Linked DNA regions of Homo sapiens. The protein of the gene in region 2 interacts with the protein of the main gene of each other region in a pairwise test. Each region holds a gene or a part of one and is shown on either strand. Other genes may lie near its edges.

What was found.
Region 1: the proteins of FKBP6 (region 2) and CCNK interact in a two-hybrid assay, tested with the Homo sapiens proteins (one large-scale study listed by BioGRID and IntAct).

The regions. Positions count from the first base shown.
Region 1 is NC_000014.9:99,484,409-99,487,931, reverse strand, and holds part of CCNK (cyclin-K), read right to left. Parts: intron 1,480-3,523; exon of another isoform or gene 1,474-1,479; intron 1-1,473. UniProt on the Homo sapiens protein: Regulatory subunit of cyclin-dependent kinases that mediates activation of target kinases.
Region 2 is NC_000007.14:73,331,159-73,334,681, forward strand, and holds part of FKBP6 (inactive peptidyl-prolyl cis-trans isomerase FKBP6), read left to right. Parts: intron 1-498; coding exon 499-618; intron 619-3,523. UniProt on the Homo sapiens protein: Has an essential role in spermatogenesis. It is required to repress transposable elements and prevent their mobilization, which is essential for the germline integrity.

The DNA.
Region 1 (3,523 bases), on a different chromosome or scaffold from region 2:
AGGACTCCTTATCTTCATCAATCCCTCGATAGCCAAGGAATACTTGCTTATGTGTGGGTACTGCTTTCATAAATTACAACACTGTGATTTGAATTATAGCATACAAAAAGAAAAGTGAACTAATTATAAGTGTATGGCTGATTGTTTTTCACAAAGTAAACACACCTGTGTTAACACTATTCAGTTGAGAAAGAGAACAGTACCAACATTCCAGAAGCTCTCTTCGTTCTTTCCTAGTGACTATCCTCCCAAAGATAACTATTCTGACCTCTATTTCCATCAATTTGTTTTGCCTGTTTTTGAAGGACTGTGCGATGACACAGTACCACTTTTACATTTGGTTTCTTCTGCTCAATATTAAGTTCATGGGATTCATTCCTGTTGTTGCATAAAGCAGTATTTGTTCATTCTCACTGCCGCAGAGCAGTGGTTTTTAAACCTGGGACAATTTTGCCCCCCAGGGGACATTTGGCAATGTCTGAAGACACTTCTGGTTTTCCTAACTGGGGGGTTGCCACTGGCATCTAGTGTGGGTAGAGGCCAGGAATGTTGCTGAATGTCCTCAGTGCACAGAACAATCCCCCATGACAAGAAATTATCTGGTCCAACATGTCAATAGTGCCAAAGCTGAGAAAGTCTGCTGTACAGTACAGTTATATCCTATGAATGCAACACACTTTATCTATACATTCTACTGTTTGGGCATGTAAATGTTTCTGGTGTTTGATTATTAATAAGTGTTAAACATGTACATATATTCTTATAGAACAGAAGGCAACTGGACAGTTGGCTGAGGGAATCAATATCTTAGCACATCTTAGCAATTTATTCACAGTTGGGAATTGCTACTTTAATATACATACGCCTAACAGTTTTCCATGTACTTTTTCATTTAAATATTTCCTGAGCATTTACTATGAGCCAGGCCTTAATGGCATGGCAGGGCACAAGATAAGTAAGGTCTTTGCCCCAGGAAGCTTACATTCTAGTGGGAGAGACAATAAGAAAGAAATATATGAATATTTGTCAGGGAATCTTAAGTGCCACAAATAATAACGCATGTAAGGGGAGAGAACATAATGAGGTAAGGGCTGTTTAGAGGTATGCAGAAAGAGGAAGAGTTAGGAGATTATAGTAGCAGTTCAAGTAATGCCTAATACACCTGTCTCCACACAATGGCAGCTGGAACAAGGGGTGTGTGTGTCATAATTGGCCATGAGGCAAAGAATGGAAAAAGATGATTTCAAGTTTGACTGACACAGAGGGTGATACTAAAAAGACAAATGGATAAGACAAGAGAAAAAGCTGGTTTTGATAAGGAGGGAGGAAAAGAATTTGGCTCTATAAATACTAAGCTTGAAGAACTTTAAGATCCTTTTGTGGAAATATCTATCAGACAGATAAATAGGCCAGTTGAAGTCTCTACAGAACATATCTACTTGGGGTTCATCTACACAGAGGTGATAACTATAAAGTCATGTTGACGGATGGAGGGATGGAGAGTGAAGAAGGAAGGGGTCTGGGTACAGAACTCTGTGAACTTGTACCAAGTAGGAAGAATCACCAAAGGCGAGCGTTTGCCCAGTGACAGGAAGGTAAAACAGACTTGAATGCACTTATGATTTACCCACTTGCAGACTAAGAATCACCAAATTAGAGAAAGGGAAAAAGACTGGTCCAAGAAGTAGGGAAATTTGCATCCTTTGTTGCAAAACAAACCATGGGATGTCAGCTTTAAACCAGAGATGGTAGTCAACAGTGACAAATGCTAAAGAAAAGTTAAAGGACAAGGAACTAAGGAAAGTTTACTTTAATTGGTGATTAGTTGTTTATTAGAGACACTGAAAATTGTGATGGTTTCATGACTCTGCAAATACTAAAAACGACTGATTTGTACAGTTTAAATGGGTAATTTGTACGGTATAGGATTATATTTCAAGAAAATACATATATACACATATAAATAAAATAACATTTTTAGAAGTGCAATAGGGCAGAAGGTGTAGAAACTGCAAGGGGTGGTAAAGAATGAACAGACTAGGAAATAGGTTATTCTTTTTTATTCATTTTTTAATTTTTTGAGACAGAGTCTCCCTCTGTCATCCAGGCTGGAATGCAGTGGTGCTCACTGCAACCTCCCGCCTCCAGGGTTCAAGTGATTCTCCTGCCTCAGCCTCCTGAGTAGCTGGGATTACAGGCATAAGCCACCGTGCCTGGCTGGAAATAGGTTATTCTTTTGAGGCATCTGTTCTCAAAGAGAGTAACAGGGAATAGTAGGGAGTAGGTTTTGTTATTGTTTTGGTTTTTATATATTTTTCAGCATAAAGGAGAATGAAAAATGTCTGCAGCCAGTAAAAACAAAAAGGAATCACTAGAGGAGTCAGAACAAGGGAGGCTAACTGGTCAAGGGATAATAAAAAGCACAGCAAGAAAGTTAACCTTAGAAAGAAAGCTCTTTCTTCCCCTGAGAATGGAAGGAAAAGTTTGAGAAAGATATTTTTAAATAATCTTTTAAGGGGGAGGAAGTAACTAAAAAATCTCAAGAGTACCTCCATATTCTCTAGGAAGTATAATGCCAAGATATCTGTTGAGGGGAAAGGGGCAGAACGGGGAACAGTGTTAGGAATACCCCAGTAGGGATGAAACTGGAATGGAAAAGAACCTCGGTCCACAAGCGGATAAATCGTAAGTATATTCAATTGTTTTACCTTCTGTAACTGGCCAAACTCCTGGTCCCTTTAGGTTCCAAGGCAGAATATAAACAATTCATGAAATGTAGTGAAAATATTATGGACATAAACAGAATAGAGACAGTCCTCAAAATCGTAGAACTCCCTGAAAAAGTTTTTGCCTCAGGTCTATAAACCTGTTCCCTATTACTCTTCAATTATTTTTTCACAAGACCCTAAAGTTGTAAGTTTTCTCATTAGTAGCTTGTGATTCCTCTGAAAATGACTGAGATTTATGAACTCTGCAAAATGAAAATCCATAAACAAGCAACCTGTCAAGGCATTTTAGCAGCACCTTTCAGGAATGTGCTTCATAAATATCATTTTACATCATAAAAGACTAAATATATTTTCAACATTTAGAATTATGGAAACAATAGTAAATGTCACCACTCAATTATCTCACCCAATATCGAAATCCCCTCTTAGTAATATTTGGCCACTTATCAATGAAACCTCATTAGTTTACAAAACAGCCTATGGCATTGCTGGGTATCAATAACTGGTGTTCACATAATTCCTGTATTCCTATATTGATTTTTATCTGTCCTGTTCATCCCCTAGATCTGCTACACAGATGGCATAAAATAATGCATGAATGAAATCTACCTTTTAGCGACTCTTTAACTTCTACCAGGGTCCTTAAACTAAGCCTTGAAAATACATTTCCCTTATCTATTGATTGTCTTTCAAACAGGTAAAAGCAATTTTTACATTCTCTTCTCTAGGGTAAACAAATCTAACCATTTTTCTCATCATGATTTTTCTTTTTTTTTAGTGTTTCAAGTCCTCCC
Region 2 (3,523 bases):
GACTCTGAAGATGGCCAGGGCAGAGCATCATGACCATAAAGACTGCCAGGGCCCTGAGCAAACCAAGACCTGTTCAGTGCTTGGTGGCCAAATAGTGGTTTTGAGCACTGACTTCTGTGCTTGGCAAGTTCCGTCAGTTTTTGATTCCATGGGACACTGCTTCCTCAGAGAACATCAGGGGAAGACTGAAGACGTAGACTTCCTTCTGGCTCTAGGGTGTAAAATGGGACAGGTTATAACACTGGTGTGGCTTCTGTCAGATTCAGAGGTGACTCCAACACAGAAGGCTGTAAACAGAAGTGCATGATCTGAAAAAGAAGAGCTCACAGCTGTAGTAACACTTCCTTTCTTTCAATTACTATTTTTTTAAATGGAGACATGTTCTCACTATGTTGCCCAGGCTGGTCTCGAACTCCTGGGCTCACGTGTACTAACACTTCCATTGTGGCATTACTGCTTTTGGTTTCCTTGCTGAATATTCCTGTCTCTGGTCCTCAGGAGCAGCAAGACCAATTTCCACTTCAGAAGGTCCTGAAAGTGGCAGCTACGGAACGGGAGTTTGGCAACTACCTTTTCCGCCAGAATCGTTTCTATGATGCCAAAGTGAGATATAAAAGGGTGAGAATGCTTTGAAAGTTAAGTGTAAGTTTAGATCCTGAAAACTTCCTTGTTTAAAAAACACAGATTTTGTTTTGTTGTGATTTTTGTTTTGTTTTGTTTTTGAGACAAGAGTGTCGCTCTGTCGCCCAGGCTGGAGTGCAGTGGCGCAATCTCAGCTCACTGCAAGCTCCGCCTCCTGGGTTCACGCCATTCTCCTGCCTCAGCCTTCCAAGTAGCTGGGACTACAGGCACCCGCCACTTCACCTGGCTAATTTTTTTGTATTTTTAGTAGAGACAGAGTTTCACCGTGTTAGCCAGGATGGTCTCAATGTCCTGACCTCGTGATCTGCCCACCTCGGCCTCCCAAAGTGCTGGGATTACAGGTGTGAGCTACCGCGCCCGGCAAAAAACACAGATTTTTGTCTTTCTCCCTACTTTCTATGAGCAGCCATTAAGAAAAATCTCATTTAAAAAAATCCTCATGCCAGGCCAAGGCAGGTGGATCACCTGAGGTCAGGAGTTTGAGACCAGCCTGGCCAACATGGTGAAACCCCGTCTCTACTAAAAATACAAAATTAGCCGGGCGTGGTGGTGGGTGCCTGTAATCCCAGCTACTTGGGAGGCTGAGGCAAGAGAATCACTTGAACCCAGGAGGTGGAGGTTGAGGTTGCAGTGAGCCGAGATTGTGCCGTTGCATTCCAGCCTGGGCAAGAAAGGCAAAAAAACTCCCATCTCAAAAAAAAAAAAAATCCTCATGCCAAAGGGATAAGTACTGGAGAGGGGACTAACGGGGGGATAAGGGCTGAAGAGGGGACTCTCGAGGGGATAAGGGCTGGAGAGAGGACTCACGGGATTGGGAGGCACCTGGGAATGTTCTGTGTTTTGACGTGGTTCTTGGGTACATGGGTGTGTTCAGGTTGTGAAAAACATTTGCCTCTGTATATGTACTTGAACTAGAAGTGTTTAGAATTTCCATCTCACTGCTCTAAAACAATTCAGTTTATTAACTTTTAAAAATTCTCATCCCAGTGCTTATTAGGTCCTCCACCAACCGATTTCTCCACCCCTTTGCCATCATCATTTCATGTCTCTGACAGTGGAGGCTCATTTGGCGATTCTAGCCTGAGGCAATTGCAGCCTCATCAAGCCTCCTGTTGTGATTTTGCTTCTTGTGTAGGTTATGCTGAGCTGTTTTCTGTTTCCTTTTTAATTTTATTCATTCAACAAACATGGCTGGACGCAGTGGCTCATGCCTGTAATCCCAGCACTTTGGGAGGCTGAGGCGAGTGGATAGCTTGAGGTCAGGAGTTTGAGACCAGCCTGGGCAACGTGGCGAAACCCCGTCTCTACTAAAAATACAAAAATTTGCTGGCATGGTGGTGGGTGCCTGTAATCCCAGCTACTTGGGAGGCTGAAGCAGGAGAATCACTTGAACCCAGGAGGCGGAGGTTGCAATGAGCCAAGATCGCACCACTGCACTCCAGCCTGGGCAACAGGGCAAGATTCTGTCTCCAAAAAAAAAAAAAACAAAACACCACACATGCGTGTGCTGTCTCTGGAACATACTCATATAGGCCAAATGTTGCCGACCCTGTCACCCAATATCTATTCCCCCTTCTCCTAACAGAACCTCCCATTTCACTCAAAGCATCAGTGTACTAATTAAAAAACTACATCTTCCCAGCTTCCCATGAGCTTAGGGTGTCCCTGTAACAAGGGTCTAGCCAAGGAGACATAAAGGGAAACCTCTGGAGGGTCTTCCAGAAAGCTCTTAACATAACACAAGCACCAGACTCTTCTCCCCTCCCTCCTTCCCACCCAGGTGACCCCGCAATGCGTGGCCAGGGGAGAATCTCCCTGGGGCCCGCCACACAGCTCTTGTCCTGGGGCTGCCCTATAATGCTAGTTTGTGGATTTCCTGTTTTTTTCTCAACTTACTCCTTTGTTTTAACAGAGTATGTTGATGTATGTCTAAAATATTCTTGGTTTTTAAATACATATTTGTCTAGAGTTGTTATTAAAAAGTCTTTTGGCTGGGCACGGTGGCTCATGCCTGTAATCCCAGCACTTTGGGAGGCCGAGGCGGGTGGATCACCTGAGGTCAGGAGTTCAAGACCAGCCTGGCGAACATGGTGAAACCCCGTCTCTACTAAAAATACAAAAATTAGCTGGGCGTGTTGGTGGGTGCCCATAGTCCCAGCTACTTGGGAGGCTGAGGCAGGATAATTGCTTGAACCCGGGAGGTGGAGGTTGCAGTGAGCCAAGATGGCATAATTGCACTGCAGCCAGGGGAATAAGAGTGAAACTCCATCTCAAAAAAAAAGGTCTTGCTAGTTCTGAGCTCAAAGCTAACAACAACAACAAAAAAATCTTACTACTACTTAGGTTCTTTATTCCTTTCTACGTGACCTGTTTTTTCTTCTGTAGAGACGAAGATCGTTTTTCCCCGGCATTCCTAAATTTTACGGTGATGTGCCTCTGCGTGTGTGTATCTTTTCATTCAGGAAACTTTTCCTCCACTCTGGGAAACTTTCTTGAGTTATTTCTTTGATAATTTACTCTTGTTCCCTCTGCCCTCTTTGTCTGGAACTCCTATTATCAGACCTCCTGCACTGAGCTTCTGGCTGCTGTCCCTCCCCCCTCCCCACCTAGTTTCCATCTTTTCTCCTGTTTGTGTCATGTATGGAAGCTTTCCTTGACTTTTTGCCACCTCTTCTGATGAATTTTTCATTTAAAACTGGGGGGCCAGGCACAGTGACTCACACCTATAATCCCAGCACTTCAGGAGTCCAAGGTGGGAGGATTGCTTGAAGCCAGGAGTTAAAGATCAGTCTGGGCACCATAGCAAGATCCCATCTCTACAAAAAATAAATTTTAGAAAATTGAAGGGCTATTTGTTCTTCCCCTCCCTAGCATTCTGTTC